Linked DNA regions of Homo sapiens: regions 1 and 3 are each linked to region 2. Evidence: fine-mapped expression QTL. A gene starts in region 2. Each other region holds a variant in brackets. All regions are shown on one strand. Distances are from middle to middle. Region 1 overlaps IRAG2 (inositol 1,4,5-triphosphate receptor associated 2). Region 2 holds the start of IRAG2 (inositol 1,4,5-triphosphate receptor associated 2). Region 3 overlaps DNAI7 (dynein axonemal intermediate chain 7).

Evidence for each region. PIP is the estimated chance that this variant, and not a neighbour inherited with it, causes the effect.
Region 1: its variant is the best candidate, but not a certain one, in a credible set for the expression of IRAG2 in tibial nerve (GTEx, PIP 0.79).
Region 3: its variant is the best candidate, but not a certain one, in a credible set for the expression of IRAG2 in sun-exposed skin (GTEx, PIP 0.83).

Annotation. Positions count from the first base shown.
Region 1 is chr12:25,084,037-25,091,263 of GRCh38, forward strand. It overlaps IRAG2 (inositol 1,4,5-triphosphate receptor associated 2), which reads left to right. Exons shown (of 22, transcript NM_001366544.2): 11 at 4,064-4,121; 12 at 5,578-5,641; 13 at 5,727-5,754; 14 at 6,021-6,161. Among named protein-coding and RNA genes, the nearest start is that of IRAG2, 35 kb to the left of the region's middle. The variant G/A (reference allele first, on the strand shown) is at 3,570.
Region 2 is chr12:25,049,061-25,056,287 of GRCh38, forward strand. It overlaps IRAG2 (inositol 1,4,5-triphosphate receptor associated 2), which reads left to right and starts at 3,646. Exons shown (of 22, transcript NM_001366544.2): 1 at 3,646-3,896. RefSeq lists enhancers at 3,001-3,110, 3,151-3,520.
Region 3 is chr12:25,141,711-25,146,710 of GRCh38, forward strand. It overlaps DNAI7 (dynein axonemal intermediate chain 7), which reads right to left. Exons shown (of 16, transcript NM_018272.5): 9 at 2,655-2,967. Among named protein-coding and RNA genes, the nearest start is that of DNAI7, 51 kb to the right of the region's middle. The variant G/A (reference allele first, on the strand shown) is at 2,209.

The sequences.
Region 1 (7,227 bases), 35 kb after region 2:
AAACATAAGGAGAGCTGGAAATGATTAGAGAAAAGAGTTAAATTCCTTCCTTAAAGAGAAAATTCATTAGGCCCAGAGTGGTGGCTCATGCCTGTAATCCCAGCACTTTGAGAGATCGAGGTGGAAGGATTGCTTGAGCCTAAGAGTTTAAGGCCAGCCTGGATAACATAGGGAGACCCTGTTTCTACAAAATATAAAAACAAATCTGCCGGGTATGGTGGTGCTTGACTGTTGTCTCAGTTATATAGGAGGGCAAGGCAGACAGATCACTTGAGCCCAGGAGTTTGAGGCTGCAGTGAGCAATGAGCATGCCACTGCACTCCAACCTGAGCAACAGAGCAAGACCCTGTCTCAAAAAGAAAAAAAAGAGAGAGAGAGAGAAGACTCATTTCCACTTCTATGAATTAATAATCATTAAAGAGTAACTACAGGTCTAATTTCATGATTCTTCAAGGGTCTTGCTTATGTCTTGCTTATGTCTTGCTATGTTGTATGCATGGAGGGGTGTGTGTGTGTGTGTGTGTGTGTGTGTATTATTGTTTTTTTCTTCTCAATATACAAGCATTGTTCTAGTTAAGCATTTGGTTGCAAGAAACAGAGACCCATGCAAGCTAACTCAAGTTAAGAGGAGGCCATGGCACAGACTTGGGGCAAAAAAGTAGATGAAAATTTTTCAGCATTTCATTCTAAAGATAGTGAAATGATTGGATTTGTGATTTGGAACAATGACATGATGTCATTCGTTTCCTTTGTTATCCAGAGGCGATTGATTCCAAGAACCCCACAGATACCAAAATCAGAGAATGCTCAAGTCTCTTATATAAAAATTGCATAGTATTTGCATATAACCTAATGAAACGGGAGAGTTCCCTGATTCCCCTTGCAGGACATGCAGCAGTGGTGTGTCTCACCTGCTTAGTCACCCCATAGTTCAAGCCCCTAGGGGGAACATGCAGACCAGCAGCTGCAGAGGCCAGGGCAAGCGCTTTTGGGCTCTGCCCCCTGGCAGCATCTAGGGGTCAGTGTCTGTGATTCCCAAAGTCCAAGTGAGTGTGTGTTACAAAGCTCTTTCAGATTTGCCATCTGCAGACAGCTTGTGTGTTAATTAGCTCAATGGACCCTCAGCCTTATCACAAGGGCAGAGGGCCAGTGTGACAGCTTTCTGTATCCTGAGCTGTCGCTCAGTGTCCCAAAAGAATCAGATCACACGTGAGCTGGAAGGATGAGTGCAAGGTTTTACTGAGTGGTGGAGGTGGCTCTCAGTAAGATGGATGCGGAGCCAGAAGGGGGGATGGAGTGGGAAGGTGGTATGGAATGGGAAGGGGGTATTCCCCTGGAGTCAGGCTGCCCAGAGGCCATACTCTTCTCCAACTGCCCCAGGCTAAACTCCCCTTGGCATCCAGACATCCCCCCTCTTCTCTCTTTCTCTGCCATGTCATTCCACTATTGTCAGTCTGCCAGTCTGCTGGTCTGCCAGTGTTGTGTGCTCACTTCAGCTGCTTGTGTTGTGTGCCCACTAAGGTCTCGGGTTTATGTTGGCACAGGATGAGGGGCATGGTAGGCCAGAGTGGTCTTGGAAAATACAACATTCAGACACAAAAACAGGAGTGCCTGTTCTCACTTAGGTCTGCAGGCACAGGCCTGAGGGTGGAGCCCTCACTGGGGACCCCGCCTTTCTCTATCCAGCACTTCCCTGCCCACCTCCCATATCACTAACACATCCTCTTATATACTTTAAATCATCTCTAGACTGCTTATGATACCTAATACAGTATAAATGCTATGTAAATAGTTATAATGACAAGAAAGGAAATCTGCGTGTGTTCAGTACAGATACAACCATTGTAGGCCTAACTACATTTTTTTTAGTTAAATCCATAGATGCAAACCCACAAATACAGAGGGCCAGCTGTATAGGTAGGATATAGTGTTGGCTAGCACATATGCTGAAAATGGTTGCTCCTAGTAAAAAATGAACAGAAGAAAACTCAAGTCCTTTACTCTTTCATAGTAGAATCTTCTGAGAGAATAAAATTCCTTCTCATCTCAAAAAAAATATAGACATAAAGACACTTTTTAAAATAATGGATCAATTTGCCATTGGAAGTTGTGGGACTGGTTAGGATACTATGGCAATAATTCAGATGAGATGAAGGTAGTATGAATTTAGTGAAGGTGGAGAAAAGGAGATAAATTTGAGAAATATTTAGGGGTAGAATTCACAGAGGATGATGACATGTCACGGGTATGGGAAACGGTAGATACCCAGGCTTATGGCTTAACCTACCGAATGAATAGAATAACATGACAGTAGGGAAGGAGGAAGGAGAGTAGAATTTGTGGGGTAAAATAAGATCAGTTTGAGACAAGTCAAATTTCAGGCTGATCTGAGACATTGATAGTCGGTAAGGAGATTTTATATACGGCTGCATACCCATATTCATAAACTCACCTGTGCGGTTTTTGAAAGCTGACATATATTTGTGAATTATCAGCAAAAATCCAAGTGTGTGGATGAGATTTCCCAAGGACTGTGGCAGGAAGGAAGGGAGCATTGAGGATAATGGAATCCTGGCTAACAATATCTACTAGAGAAGGCAGAGGAGACTGAGAACGGGCTGTGACGCGGGGCTGGGGCATCAGAACAGGGAAATCAAGGGGAAAAAATCTTCAAGAGGAAAGGATGTATAGATAATTTTAGATGCTATAGTAAGGTCAAGTAAGATAAAGACTGAAAATTATCCACTGGATTTGGCAATAGGGAGTTGATAGCTGGTGAGAACACTTTTCTTGGAGTGCTGTGTAAAGGGGTAGAGTAGTTAATTGATCACGAATGGGAGAGGAAGAGCTAGAAACAGCAGCCACACACAACTCCTTATGTGACCTTAAAACATATCTATATGCGGTAAAAGCCTAACATAACACTGTCTTAGCAGCCATCTTTGTCACAATTTCTCCAAAAACCTATCTAGAAAACTCCATGTGATAGCCCTATATCACCCACACCTTACCTTTTCATCTATCCAGTCCTACCTCTTCATCAAACTTCAGCATGTTTCTTGTCTGCAGAAATTCCATGCTACTCAAGTCATGGTGTCATGGTGCCACTCTCCTTCCTTTTTTTTTTTTTTTTTTTTTTTTTTTTTGTTGAGACAGAGCCTTGCACTGCTGCCTAGCTTGGAGTGCAGTGGCATGATCTCGGTTCACTGCAACCTCTGCCTCCCCAGTTCAAGTGATTCTCCTGCCTCAGCCTTCAGAGTAGCTTGGATTATAGGCCTGCACCACCACCCCTGGCTAATTTTTGTATTTTTAGTAGAGACGGGGTTTTGCCATGTTGGCCAGGCTGGTCTTGAACTCCTGACCTCAGGTGATCCACCCACCTCAGCCTCCCAAAGTGTTGAGATTACAGGCGTGAGCCACAGCGCCCTGCCATTTCCTTCCTATTAAGAGCACTTGTTTATCTATCTCATTTATTTGGCAATTAATCCTAGTTTGCATTGTTGTAATTCACATCATGTTTGCATCTTTTCATGTATTTACGCCCTTTTTGCTTCAACTAGATTGGAAGC[G/A]CCCTTGCAGCCAATTTTATTTCCTTCTTAACAGCATTAAAAACTGTAGAGCAGGGGTCCCCAGTCGCTGCTGAGCCAGGGATCAGAACCCATTCGAGGCTGTTAGGAATTGCGCCGCACAGCAGGAGGTGAGCGGCAGGCCAGGGAACATGACCACCTGACCTCTGCCTCCTGTCAAATCAGTGGTGGCATTAGATTCCCACGAACCCTATTGTGAACTGTGCAAGCGAGCCATCTAGATTGCATGTTCCTTAGGAGAATAACGCCTGATGATCTGAGGTGGAACAGGTTCCTTCAGAAACTGTTTCCCCCTCACCTCACCCCCGTGGAAAAACTGTCTTCCAGGAAACTGGTCCCTGGTACCAAAAAGGTTGGGGACTGCTGTTATAGAGTGTTTTTGTCAGAGTAGGCTTAGGAGAGGACAGGAAGTAGGAAAATGACTGGTTATGAAGTATTTCCACTCTATGTACAGTGGTAAAATCTTATGATTTTAGGAAGCCAAAGAGGAACCAGAAACAATAGAAGAACATAAAAAAGAACATGCTTCAGGAGGTAAGGAATGTTTCTTTCAATCCCCATGTGAACTTTTGTTCTCTGCTGATATTTTTGTGGGTGAAATCTGTCTGAATAAAGCTATGTCACTTACAAATTCTGCATCTCTGGATAAGGTCAGTCAATAGGACCGATTATTGATTCCATTTGTGTCATTTTCAAAAAGCCACATTTGCATTGTGTTGACTGTGCGATCCCAGAAAACCTGTAATAACTGGTGCTCTATTGTGAACTAAGAACCAAGCGAATGTTGGTAGCAAATGCTATGCTCTACTGTTAGTTCTTTTTTAGTATCCCATCTAAAAGTAAAGCCCCTATTTACAGAATAAGTGCTAATATGCTTTTCCCCTTAGCCTACCTCCATTGGGATGGAATAGTGGATAGAGTTCAGGCTTTGGAGTCATAGAGACTCTACATGGGATCAATCTCTGACTAGCTATTGATCTTGGAAAGTTACTTAACCTTAAGTCTCAATTTTCTCATTTGCAAGAGGAAAATGAAAAGAAGAAAAGTACACTTAATTGAGAATATATTCTATGCTGAGAACTAGGCTAATTTCATGTGCATAGTTTTATTTAGTCCTCCAAATACTATGTGAGGTGGTAAATTGTGATTCAGTTGCCTAGCCTATAAAATGTGGACAATAAAAGTATCTACAACAGAAGGTTTGCTGTGAGGATTGAATAAATTAATATGTATGAAGCACTTAGAAAAGTGGCACCAAAGTTCTCATAAAAGTTAGTTACTATTATAAAAAAATCAATCTTATCTTAGATGATAAGATATCTTTATCTTATCAATCTTATCTTAGATGGCTTAATGACTTTGTGACTTGTTCAAGCTCACATAACTGTAAGATTCAAACAAAGCTCAGACTTAAACCAAGTTTGTTTGACTTTAAATCCAATGCTCTTAATAACTAATACATAGTCCTTGGTAAAGTTGTCATAAAATCATATGTGTAAAATGCTTTGCTCTGTGATTGGCAATATAATAAAGCCATGGTTGATGCCATGTTTATTGTCACTGTTATTGTTACCAGTATTATTATTACTACTATTATTATTACTACTACTGTTCCTGCTACTGCTAATAAAGCCTTGATCCAAAGAAGAACCAGGATACCAGTAGGAGGTTTAGGCTTTTAGCCATGGGATCAAGTATAGCAAACATGCAAATGCAAAGAGAACAAATTGGGCTGTTGCTTGATTCTGAGACATCTTTAAGTATGAAAGACTATTCACATGCTGAGGTATAAACAAATGATTGTAATGGCATTGTGATCCCAATAGCTTAGCATAACATTATAATTTAAGTGCATACATTATTAGCTGGCGATCATCTCAGACATATTTAAATGAAATACTTTTGTTTAGTGGAGATATAACATTAGATCAAATGTGCTTTTACAGGTCAAGCCTTTTTAACCAAATAATATTTTATTATATTTTAATAGACTCTGTGGTTTCCCCTCTTCCTGTAACCACTGTGAAATCGGTTAACCTTAGACAAAGTGAGAAGTAAGTGCTTCTTCATGTAGCATGTTAACATGTTTTATTTTTCTGTTGGATTATGTTTAAATATGTTTTTTGTCTTATCCTACAGCACTTCTGCTAATGAGAAGGAGGTGGAGGTGAGTTTAAAGCAAATTTTTTTTCCTTTTAAAAAAGTGTTCCAGACTCACCTGCTACAGTCACTTCATGTTTTGGCACAAGCTCTCATATGCTCGGTGTCTGTTTGGCTTGGCTGTGACTCAGTGCAGGTGAACCCTGTGCATGTCAGCATTATGTTGCTGGGGGGAGAAAGAAATGCCTCAGTATAAAACAGTATTAAACTGAAACATCTGACCACATCCGGTTTTCTCTCCTCTTCCTCACCCTCACATTATTTTGACAACAGGCAGAATTTCTCAGATTATCTTTGGGATTTAAGTGTGACTGGTTTACCTTGGAGAAGAGAGTGAAGCTTGAAGAGAGGTCCCGTGACTTGGCAGAAGAAAATTTGAAGAAAGAAATCACTAACTGTTTAAAACTATTAGAGGTGAGAATCAGAACATTTGGGATATAAACATTTGGTCTAGCCAGGCACAGTGGCTCACACCTATAATCCCTGCACTTTGGGAGGCCAAGGCAGGAGGATCATGGGAGACCAAGGCAGGAGGATCACTTGAGGCCCGGAGTTCAAGATCATCCTGGGCAACATAGTGGGACCCCATCTCTACCAAAAAAAAAAAAAAAATCAGCCAGGTGTGATGATGTGTGCCTGTAGTCCCAGCTACTTGGGAGGCTGAGGCAGGAGGATCATTTGAGCCCAGGAGTTGGAGATTGCAGGGAGCTATAATCACACCATTGCATACCAGCTTGGGTGACAGAGTGAGACCCTGTCTCAAAAACAAAACAAAAAACACCCACAGAAAACATTTGGTCATATTTTCAATAACACTTTCATAATTACATATGAAATTACTTGTATGACCCAAACCAGTACCAGGTGCCAAGCTCTGCCTGACCCAAATGTGAATCATAGAAAGTAAGAATGCAGGATCAGGCTGAAATAAAAGTTTCACTAATAGGAGAGTATCAGCTATAAAATGAAAAATGTCTTTTTAAAGTAGGTTGCATGAGTCATCTGCCTTTTCTCTGGATTTTCAAATTTCAGGCAGAAAAGGAATCATACAGAAAACTGAGCAATAGGAAATATCAATTTTAAGCTTCAAAGAAGAGAATCGAGTCTATTTCCATTTATGATTAACTGAGGAAAGAGAATGGTAACTGATTCAGTCTTGCAGATGATGGGCAAGCCTGCTGTAGGGTACTGAGAGAAGAATGGGGGTGCAGAGGAGTGTAACAACTACTATTATCCTTCCATATGGTGAAGTTACCATACATTTAGAGATGAGCTGGAAAATTAGTAGGCTTAGTTTTGGATGAAGGACATTAAAATTGAGAAACCATGGAAAAGAATCACGTTATTTTTTACCGTGATAAAATATGTAACATAAAATTTATCATCTTGAACATCTTCAAGTGCACAGTTCAATGTAAGTTTATTTACATTGTTGCAAAACAGATCTTGAAACTCTGTACCTGTTAATTTCCCTTTTCCT
Region 2 (7,227 bases):
ACAGTCCTATTTCTGAGTTCTCTATTCTGTTCCATTGGTCTATGTATCTGTTTTTGTACCAGTACCATGCTATTTGGCTACTGTAGCCTTGTAGTATAGTTTAAAGTCGGGTAGCGTGATGCCTCCAGTTTTGTTCTCTTTTCTTAGGATTGTCTTGGCTATTTGGGTTCTTTTTTGATTCCATATGAATTTTTAAATAGTTTATTCTAATTCTGTGAAGAATGCCAATGGCAGTTTAATGGGAATAGCATTGAATCTATAAATTACTTTGGGCAGTATGGCTATTTTCATGATATTGATTCTTCCTATCCATGAGCATGGAATGTTTTTCCATTTGTTTGTGTCCTCTCTGATTTCCTTAAGCAGTGGTTTGTAGTTCTCCTTGAAGAGGTCCTTCACTTATGGGGTTAATATTTAGAAAATATAAGAAACCCCTACAACTCCAGAACAACAATAAAAAAACACAAATAACTAGATTTAAAAATAGACAAAAGACTTGAATAGGCATTTCTCAAAAGAAGACGATAAATGGTCAAACAGGTGTACAAACATACTCAACATAACTAATCATTAGGAAAATGCAAGTTAAGACTATAATTAGATATTGTATCATACCTGTTAGGATGGCTATTATTTTAAAAGACGGCCGGATGCGGTGGCTCACGCCTGTAATCCCAGCACTTTGGGAGGCTGAGGCGGATCACGAGGTCAGGAGATCGAGACCATCCTGGCTAACAAGGTGAAACCCTGTCTCTACTAAAAATACAAAAAAATTAGCCAGGCATAGTGGCAGGCGCCTGTAGTCCTAGCTACCCGGGAGGCTGAGGCAGGAGAATGGTGGGAACCCGGGAGGCGGAGCTTGCAGTGAGCCAAGATTGTGCCACTGCACTCCAACCTGGGCAACACAGCGAAACTGTGTCTCAAAAAAAAAAAAAAAAAAAAAAAAAAGCTACTCGGGAGGCCGAGGCAGGAGAATGGCGTTAGCTTGGGAGGTGGAGCTTGCAGTGAGCCGAGATTGCGCCACTGCACTCCATCCAGCCTGGGTGACAGAGTGAGACTCCGTCTCAAAAAAACAAAAACAAAAAACAAATAAAAAAAAGTGTTGGTGAGGATGTAGAGATATTGGAGTCCTAGTGCACAGTTGGGGGAATGGAAAGTGGTGCAGGCACTATAGAAAATGTTATGGAGGGCCGGGTGCGGTGGCTCATGCCTGTAATCCCAGCACTTTCGGAGGCCGAGACAGGCGGATCTCGAGGTCAGGAAATCGAGACCATCCTGGCCAACATGGTGAAACCCCGTCTCTACTAAAATACAAAAAATTAGCCGGGCATGGTGGTGCGTGCCTGTAGTCCCAGCTACCCGGGAGGCTGAGGCAGGGGAATCGCTTCAACCCGGGAGCCAAAGGTTGCAGTGAGCTGAGATCGCGCCAGTGCACTCCAGCCTGGAGACAGAGCGAGACTCCGTCTCAAAAAAAACAAACAAACAAACAAACAAAAAAAAACAGTTACAGAGTTTTCTCAAAATATTAAAAATTAAACTACCATCTGATCTAGGAACCCCACTTCTGGGTATTTATCCAAAATAATTAAAATCAGCACCTGGAAGAGCTATTTGCATTCCCATATTCACTGCGGCATTATTCTCAATAGCCAAGATTTGGAAACAACCTGAATGTCCACGGATGATTGGATAAAGAAAATTTGGTATATAAATACAAGGGAATATTATCCAACCTTTAAAAAGAAGGAAATTCTGCCACATATGACAACATAGATAAACCTGGAGGACACTATCCCAAGTAAAATAAGTGAGTCACAGAACAACAAATACTGCACGATCCCACTTCTCTGAGGTATCTAAAATAGTTAAACTAATAGAAAGAGAGAGAATAGTGGTTGCCAGGAGCTAGGGGAGGGGAAATGAGGAGTTGCTACTCAATAGGTATAAAGTTTCAGTTATGCAAGATGAAGATGTTCTAGAGATCTGCTGTACAACATTATGCCTGTAGTTAATAATACTGTATTGTACACTTAAAAATTTGTTAAGTGGGTAAATCTCCTGTTAAATGTTCCTGCCACAGTTAAAGAAAAAGAGAGAAAAAGAGAGTGAGAGAGACAACGATAAGCTATTGAAGGACGCTCAGTGGAAAGTGTGGTGATGTAGGCAGTTTTTATTTTTGCTTAGGATTTTGTTTGCTTGTTTACCAGTATGGTAAGCATTCTGTGAGACCATTCTTGCCTCTCATGTGGTCCTTCGTGTAACCAGGGCTGGATTTGTGCCAGTGTGCAGTGGCATTCTGACTAAATGTTAACGTTTGAGAGGCATGCACAAGGCCTACGGCTGACAATGTCTTCCTTGCTGTTTTGCAACTCCCGACATTTATCACCACTTTGAGTTAAGGTCCATATTCAAGTCAGATTGTTTCCAGATAATCATTGAGGTACTGGCATGTAACACACATTAAATAATCTCATCTGCTAACAGAGAGTAAGTGCATTTTTACATGTTTTAGAGATTAGAATTGGATCCAAATGAGGTGTAACGTAATGGCACCATGAGATCTGTGGTGGGGAAGGGTGATGGGGAGAAAAGCTTCAGCAAAAAGAGGACTAAAGTAGAAATATCAACCGCCAGCTTTCATCTGTGCCTGGGGGCGGTCCTTCCTGTGCTCGTGGCACGTGTTTATACTATGATTGACAACCCTTAAGGAGAAAGGCTAAGGTCATGAAACAAAGCTCTCTTTCCTTTTCTTTTCCCTCCCCCTACCTTTACCCCATTCCTTTCTTTTTCTGTAAAAGCTAGCTGTGATGTGTAAATGTTGCACCTGTCACCCTGACCTCATTGTAGAGCCATCTTCTGAGTAACTGGCAACTGGCAACTGATGCTAAGTGCTATGAATGCAGCTGGTGGGAACTGAACACACCAGTGTAAAAGATGAAACTAGAAGTCCTTATCTGTAAAGTGAGGGTGTCAGGCTAAGCGACCAATAAGCTTTGCTTAAGATTTTATATTTGTGAAGCATTTATATGTAAATACTTTCACTTTTTCCTCTGATCTCTAAGGAAGTGGTGTTAAGTTTGAGTTTGTCATAATTTCACAGGGTGACTCTTAGTTGAAATGTCACTGACAGCTTGCGGTTTGGACTTTTTTTTTTTTTTTTTTTTTTAACTCCAGTCAGAAACAACTAGAAGCCATTAAACAACTACAGGAAGATGCTGTCAACCAGGAAGGCATCCTTAGGAAGAGGCTCCAAGAAACCAGCCAACGGCTGGAGGATGTGGAGGAGCAGGTAGGGTGGCTCATGGCTACATTAGATTCAGGGGACATCTCCTCAGATGCCCTGCAAACCATGAAATAAAAATGGAGGAGGAACAACAACAACAAACAAAAAAAAAAAGCAAAGAGGAACTGCAAGTTCAGTCCCTAGCGACTAACAGTGAGCAGAGGAAGTAAAGGGGGAGTTGTAAGAGAGGCGGTATCAACAGCCTGCTGATGAAAGAGGCGACTCTGCAGAAAGAGGCAACTTGACATATCAGGACTTTAACCGCTGTAGAAATAGCTCAGGCATACCAAGCCCATGCAAACACAGAATTGCAGAAGTTCAGGAGAGGCTTATCACTTCCCTGAGAAGAAAAACACATTTTCAGTTTTGCCTGCATCATAAGAGTGAGCACTCCATTGCTTTCTTTCCTGGCCACACTGCTACAATCCAGCACTAACTATCCATGTCCAGGGTAAGGATCGAGATCGAGAAGCCCACACTGCCAGTGAAAAAGCTACGTCTTTACTGCATAAATTAGAGGAAGCAATTTCGGAACAACGGAACCTTCAAACTATAAATACTGAATTATCGAACACTTGCCAGGCACTTCAGCAGAAGACAAGGAAACTGAAGAGTGAGTAGCAAATATTCATTTATGACCCAGTTTTTGTCCACCCTCAGGCGGGGCATAGGACTACAGACATTTTTCTAGATTACAGCTAGGATATTATTCCTGAGTTTATGACAATGAAATGGTTTGAGAAGGCAATATTGTGGGGCTTTCAGAGAGGTTTGCTGAGTGGCTAGGTGCATGCATGGGTTTAACCATTAACTTCCCTTTTTGCCTTTTTATTATAAGCTGGTTTTGTCTGTGGCTGTTTTTTTCTTTTAAAATTAATTAAAACTTCTCAAAATTTCTAAAAGTAAACAAGGAGAAAAATCTAGTATGCATGGTATATTTGAACTTGCAAGTTGTTATATATTATACTCTGATTTTATTAGCTAGTTTTTTTCCTCTCATATGGTAGAAAAGGCCTTGCTCGTCTATTTTCTTTGGAAATTTTAGGGGGTTGGGCAAAATAATTATGAATTCAGTGTATATCAAAATATCAAATGTGTGAAAATTCTTTTAAAGTTTTAATGCATTCTCTACATACATCTACATACATATTTTGCATTTTAAAAATTGGAATATTTGTCATTTTTCTGTATTACCCAAAAGTATATAAACAGTTACCAGAGATTTATGTGAGAAGACAGTTGTCACATTACAGATGTCAGATTAGCTATAAAATTGTTTCATTCTAGAAACCTAATATGGTAAAAATAAACCTTACTTATTTAGCCATTTATCAGACAATTGCTTTTGTTCAGCCAGTTTCTTGTTCTAGCAGTATAAATATTCTTTTTATAGAAAGTTACTTGGTTTGAGAAATAAACATTGTTTATTTGTTAATTGTTATATAATTATAAATAATTATATATTTAATATATAAGCTTAAGGTAGGCTAGAGATGAAAAATTTCAGACTTGTGTTTGTTTTGGATTTATTGTACCCTTTCTACTATTATCTGAGAAAGCTATTTAGGAGTTTAAGAAATAGTCTAGTTTTAAAATAGCAATGGTTTGCCGGACACAGTGGCTCACCCCTGTAATCCCAGCATTTTGGGAGGCCGAGGTGGGCAGATTGCTTGAGCCCAGGAGTTTGAGACCAGCCTGGACAACATGGTGAAACCCTGTCTCTACAAAAATTACAAACAAATAAATAAATAAAACATTAAAATAGCAGTGGTTATTCAACATATTATTGTCATAATTTTTAAACCTTTATTGAATTTGCCAGTTTTCAATATTCTGATTCACTCTGTTAAGCTAGTAAGGCAGTCTTTAAATTACACAGTCTGTGTGTTATTTTACTACTGCTCAGAGGGCATTGGAGAAGGTTCCCTTGTGATTAGAACTGTTCATGTTGAGACATGAATCATAAGGCATTCCAAAGTTGGTTTAAGGTGTGTCTGCTTTAGACACTGTGCCCAGGACTATTCTTTTGCTCCAGTTTTGCCTTTTGATTAAATCAATATTATACCTGAGTTTTATAAACTACTAAGAATTTGTTCCCCTTCCTCACTGTGATTTTCTTGCAGTATTTTCTTAGAAGAGTCAACTTTAATAACTTACCCCAAAGTGCACGTTCTTGATATTATGAACTTGCTATTGTTGTCTTCCCAGTTTATCTTCACGGCCCAATAGATTCAAATACACTTAAAAGCAGAATATGAAAGCTGCCCTGGGTTGATACGTGTATTTTTTTCTGCCTGGATAACGTAGAGTGGACACTTCCTTTCTGTCTTGAGTTATGCATAACCTGTCCAGATTTATGAAATCCCTTACTTGTTACTTGTATCTTTTGCTGCCCAAAAAACCCATACAAATCAGGATTTTGCTTATATGACCATGTACTTACGATCTTTCTAACAATGCCCTTTAAATTCAATCTTTGAGAGAAGAGGGAAATTTAGATAGCACGTATTTTCAAAATGTTCTATATAGCAGATGTTCCAGATAGACTGCAAACAAATGTCAATGACTGCAGTTATCACACAAACACGTCCACGCACATCCCGCCATGACCACTGCCACCCCATGCTGTTTGATTTCTGAGTCAGACATCTGATTCTGAGTCAGAAAACAAAACATATTTATATCTATTTAGCTTTTCTGAAACTCTCTGGCTAGTTTAATAAATTCACAAAGTATTTCAGACAATTGTTTTCTGATCCATCTAAGTTGCATCAGCACATTGTGTGGGGATGCAGCTGGTTTGTCCAAATGTTCAGATCAATGTGCATAATGTTCACACTACAACTGGAAATTTATATGTGATGTTTGATCAGAAATCCTGAACTTTATCTTGAATAAATGATATTGTTCAAGTTTTCAATTGCCTTCAGGACTGGGCTGATTTATGAGGCAATTCATGTGCATGATATTCTTCAAGAAATGTGCCATGAAAACTGTTCAATTGCTTGAATGGTTACTTATATATTTTATTTCTTCTGCATCTAAACTTTGTTTATATCCAAGTATCTTGTTAATAGACACATGACTGGATTATAATTAGTGTTTGCTTTAAAAAGGAAATTTTTTTTATTATACTTATGTTCTAGGGTACATGTGTACAACGTGCAGGTTTGTTATATATGTATACATGTACCATGTTGGTGTGCTGCACCCATTAACTCGTCATTTACATTAGGTATTTCTCCTAATGCTACACCTCTCCTATCCCCACCCCATGACAGGCCCCAGTGTGTGATGTTCCCCGTCCTGTGTCCAAGTGTTCTCATTGTTCAATTCCCACCTGTGAGTGAGAATATGCAGAGTTTGGTTTTCTGTCCTTGCGATAGTTTGCTCAGAATGATGGTTTCCAGCTTCATCCATGTCGCTACAAAGGACATGAACTCATCTAAAAAGGAAATTTTTAAAAGCTTATAGGATGTGTATATAACATATTAGGGTGAATCTTATGTACAGAAATCATGGACTAATTGATACAATCCAAAACTATCACCCCCTTACTATTCACCATCTCTTGTTCCCATCTGACGTGAAATCTTCATGGAGTCAGTCTTCTCATAGACAATGAGAGAATTACCTTTAAGAATCACAAATTTTTCCTTGAAAAGAGATCCTGGGAAACTCTGATATAGCATAATTTCTTATTTGAACGTAGTATCTGCACATGAACTTCCTAGTTTAGAGGAGACTTTCACCTAGATAATATCACTGCAAACACTCTTTTAGCTTGCTATTCTTAGCATGGAGGGCGGGAGGTATGGCAGAGGTAAAACCCTTAGGGCTTGGAGCATGGATTCAAGATGAAAGCCGTGTCCTAAGCAGTCAGTAAACAGGAGGGAAATGAGCCAAAGAAGGCGGGTGAAGGGATCCAGGTGATTGAGATACTT
Region 3 (5,000 bases), 92 kb after region 2:
TCCCAGCTACTCAGGAGTCTCAGGCAAGAGAATTGCTTGAACCTGGGAGGTGGAGGTTGCAGTGAGCTGAGATCATGCCACTGCTCTCCAGCCTGAGTGACAGAGTGAGACTCTGTCTCAAAAAAAGAAAAAAAAAAGGCCATAATTTAAAAATCAAAAAATAATAGATGTTTGAGTGGATGGGGTGAAAAGAGAACACTTTTACACTGATGGTGGGAATGTAAACTAACACATTCCTGAAAAAACTAAAGGTAGATCTACCATTTGATCCAGCAATCCCAGTACTGGGTATCTGCCCAGAGGAAAATAAGTCATATGAAAAGGACACTTGCACATGCATGTTTATAGCAGGACAATTTGCAATTGCAAAAACATGGAACCAGCCCAAATGCCCAGCAATCAACAAGTGGATAAAGAAAATGAGGTATATGTGTACCATGGAATACCACTCAGCCATAAAAGAGAATGAAATAATGGCATTTGCAGCAACCTGGATGGAACTGGAGACCATTATTGTAAGTGAAGTAACCCAGGAATAGAAAACCAAACATCACATATTCTCACTTATAAGTGGGAGCTAAGCTATGAGGATGCAAATGCATAAGAATGATACAATGGACTTTGGGGACTCAAGGGAAGGGTGGGAGGGGGATGAGGGATAAAAGACTACACAATGGGTAGTGTCCACTGCTCGGGTAATGGGTGCACCAAAATCTTAGAAATCACCACTAAAGAACTTATCCATGTAACCAAATGCCACCTGTTCCCCAAAAACCTTTTGAAATAAAAAAAAAACAAAACTACTGCCAAAATTAACAGAACTATAATTAATTATTACTACATGAGGCCACTTTGAGATAGATGCATAAGAAAAAAATGCTTTAGCCATGTAAATGCAAGTAATAGTTCAAATTTTATGGTTCCAAATTATTATTTCACAATTTTAAAATCAATAATGTGAAATTCTTATGTAAAATACTGATAGGTTCTTTGTTTTCAGGAATATAAAATCACAAATCCTCCCTAACTTTATTTTAGGTTAATGGGGTTTAATTTTGTATTTTACTCCATATTGAAACAATGTTAAGTCCAAGACCTATTTACCCATTCTATTTTTTTCCCCCTTGGAAATGAGTTTGTCATGTCTAATCACATCTTATTAGCTAAGTCACATGGTCATGCCTAGCTGCAACATGGAAAGGAGTATAATCCTTCCATATTCCAGGAAAGGGAAGAGAACTGGAAATACTATTGTCTCTAGTAAAGCTTCTAAACTATCTGAGAGTTCACATGAAATTTTTATTTTAAAAACTATCTTATTGCCCAAAAAACATTTAAACAAAAATGACAAATTTTTAAAGAAGAATAAATCATTTCCCTCCTCTCTAAAATATGAGCTATGCACAGATTTCTGGGTTCTCATTTCCTTATGCCTTTAAAATTTTCACGTGCTTGTCATTAGAGTCTAAATACAATTTTTTTATACTTAGCATTATGTCATATCCATTTTTCTACATTGCTACAGAGTCTTCATAATTTTTTTTTTTTTTTTTTTTGAGACAAAGTCTCACTCTGTCACCCAGGCTGAAGTGCAATGGCATGATCTCGGCTCACTGCAACATCCGCCTCCTGGGTTGAAGCAATTATCTTGTCTCAGCCTCCCAAGTAGCTGGGATTACAGGTATACACCACCACGCCCGGCTAATTTTCTGTATTTTTAGCAGAGACAGGGTTTCACCATGTTGGCCAGGCTGGTCTCGAACTCCTGACCTCAAAGTGCTGGGATTACAGGCGTGAGCCACCACGCCCGGCCTATAATTTTTGATACCAGTGTAATATTTTAAATTGAATTCTTAATAAATCACGTGTTCTTAGAGTATCTAATAATTCCTATTCTGATTTTAAATTTGTATTCAATCTAATCCTTAATCCTTTCCTGTGTTTAAAGAAAATAAATCAATAAACCAATACATTTCATGTCTTAAGCACTTGTCAGAAAACTTGAGATATTTTGGTCCCTCATAACATGCAAATAGGCTATTAAACAAAGAATCTGCTTAGCTCTGAGAAAGTATTACTAAATTCTTAAGAGACATTTTTTCTAACATAAATAAGTAGCTTGACAATCTTGCCAACAGAAAAAAGAGAAGAAGCTAACTAAAGGAATATGATTATTAAATTGGTCAAAAGCTATCTCTAAAGATGTCA[G/A]ATTTTCAGAGAAGAGTGTAATATTTTAAGAAAATTAATTTTTACTTTATAAAATTATTTCTTACAAAACCAAAAACTGAGGAAGTAACAGGGTAATATAAGATTATTTACTGTAAGTTTCCATTTAATGGCAAGTTCCCTTGAATTTGAAATATATAATAAATATACAAAAATTAAATGGCATCAAAGCTGCCCGGTTGTGCACCTAATATAAAAATAAGCAATTCCTGTGCTGAACTTTAGGATGTTGAAGCTAGTGGCTCAACTATTAATTGACTATTAATGGAAGGCAAGAAAAAGATACATATTAAAAATTGAGGCACTGGCAAGAAAGTGGCTCCCAGACAATTTCCAGTTGTTTAGGAAAAATCTTGAGAACACTTTAAGGGAATCTAATAACGCATGCTGCATGAATAAAAAAATGTGTATATTTAAATGTGTCCTACCATTTTCACTTCAATATCACCTTGTTCCTCCTCAACTTTTATTTCTTCCTCCTGAATTAAGTGAGACCCTCTTTCTTGTTGTTTGGACTCTTCTTCGACCTCCTTGCTGATTGCTTTTTCTACATTCTTAACATCATCTTTGACAAGCTCAGTTACTGCAGAAGTGTATTCTTTTGATGGTGTTGAAACAGGGTGCAGTGCAGAAACATGATCATAGTGGGTATGCAGGAGTCGTACAGCAATGTCACTTGTTGCTAATATCCTTGGAATCTCAAATCCAATTTGTGTTTCAGAGAATCTAACACTTCTGTGCCTGTTAATAATTAATTACAACAAAAAAAGATGAGACCCTAGGAAACTCTAGATCTGTGTCAAATTTATACCTAAGCAGTATTTCTCTTCACTTTAATTTTGCTCCAATTTTGACTCTGATCATATGTGCTTTCTTTGCAGCATTTGGACCCAGTTGCTGATGCTATCCTTCTCAAAACAGTTTATTGGGATCCATAACCCCACAGTCTTCTCCATCTCTGGAAGTTCCTTCTGTCTCCTCTATATGGCCTTCTTCCTAACCATCCCTTCAATGTTGATATTACTCAGTGCTCCATCCTAAGCCCTTTTTCTCCTCTCCCTCAACATACACTCTCTGGATATTTTTACTTCTGTGGCCTGAATTACTATCTATACTATCAGAGGTTTGTAATATGAGCTTTATTTTTCCTAGGTTTGGGTAGGAGTATGATGCATCTCTGAATGGACTTTAAGCGGTCTAAAAATGCCCTTCCACAAGTGCAAGCATCTGTAATTACTTGACATTCGGAAGAATCTATGACTCCCAAAAAGTGAAGAACCATTGGTCTATATGTTGATGACTCCTCAAAATATACTACACCTCAGATTTCTCTCAGTGCCTTCAGCCAGTTGCACTTTGATATCTTGTAAGTACTTCAAACTCAGCCAGTTGAGCACAGAACTCATCATCCTTACAACCCCCACCCCAATCACCATCAAAGTGAAACTTGTTCTGCCTGCACTATTCCTTATCTCGTAAAAGACACCACCTAATTCTCTTCTTAAACCTGGGTAGTGAGTACAGAGCTATTCATTTTATTTTTATTCTTTTAAAACTATAAAGAGTTATTTCCTTAACTTTTCTGTACTTGACATATTTTACAATGAGAAAGGTTACTATATTGTCTCTGATTAGATGTAAACCAAAAAGTTGGTTTTTTTGTTTTTCATAGCAAATGGAAGGAACTTAGGAAATATTTTTTTCTTCCCTTTTACTAACTATCAAAAATAAAGTCTAGTTTTTTTTAAATGTCACATAGCTAGTCTTTTCAGAGGTAGGACCAGAACCTAGGCCTCCTAATTTTTATTCTGGTAATTTTTCTCTAAAACTCACTGCTATACTAATGCAAGTAACTTAAAATGTTTAAAGATCAAGCAGCAACCAAGCACTCATGAATTTGCCATCGTCACTGTCATTCCTCAGAAAGATGTTTCTTTGTTGAAAACTATTGGGGAAATAGCACTAAAATGTCCAAGAAATACACATATGAAAACCTATTATGTTTGCCGGGCGCAGTGGCTCACGCCTGTAATCCCAGCACTTTGGGAGGCCGAGATGTGCGGATCACCTGAGGTCGGGAGTTTGAGACCAGCCTGACTAACATGGAGAAACCACGTCTCTACTAAAAATACAAAATTAGCCAAGCATGGTGGCACATGCCTGTAATCCCAGCTACTCAGGAGGCTGAGGCAGGAGAATCGCTTGAACACAGGAGGCAGAGGTTGCAGTGAGCCGAGATTGCGCCCTTGCACTCCAGCCTGGGCAACAAGAGCCAAACTCTGTCTCAAAAAAAAAAAGAAAAGAAAACCTATTATTTTTAAGTCACAAAGATACATTAAAAAAAAAAAATCCAGATTGCCATATAGAAAGTACCTATTAGCTGGGCGCAGTGGCTCACGCCTGTAATCCCAGCACTTTGGAAGGCCGAGGCAGGCTGATCACTTGAGGTCAGGAGTTTGAAACTAACCTGACCAACATGGTGAAACCCCGTCTCTACTAAAAATACAAAAAAATTAGCCAGGTGTGGTGGCGTGCACCTGTAATCCCAGCTACTCAGGAGGCTGAGGCACAAAGAATCGCTTGAACCTAGGAGGCAAAGGCTGTAGTGAGCCGAGATCACACCACTGCACTCCAGCCTGGACGACAGAGCAAGACTGTGTCTCAAAAAAAAAAGAAAAAGAAAGCACCTACCACTTCTACTTTTTTGGAGGGCAGAGGAGTTAAGTGGGTAAAGAGAAGAGGAAGACCTGGTATTTAATGAGTGTATATTTGTA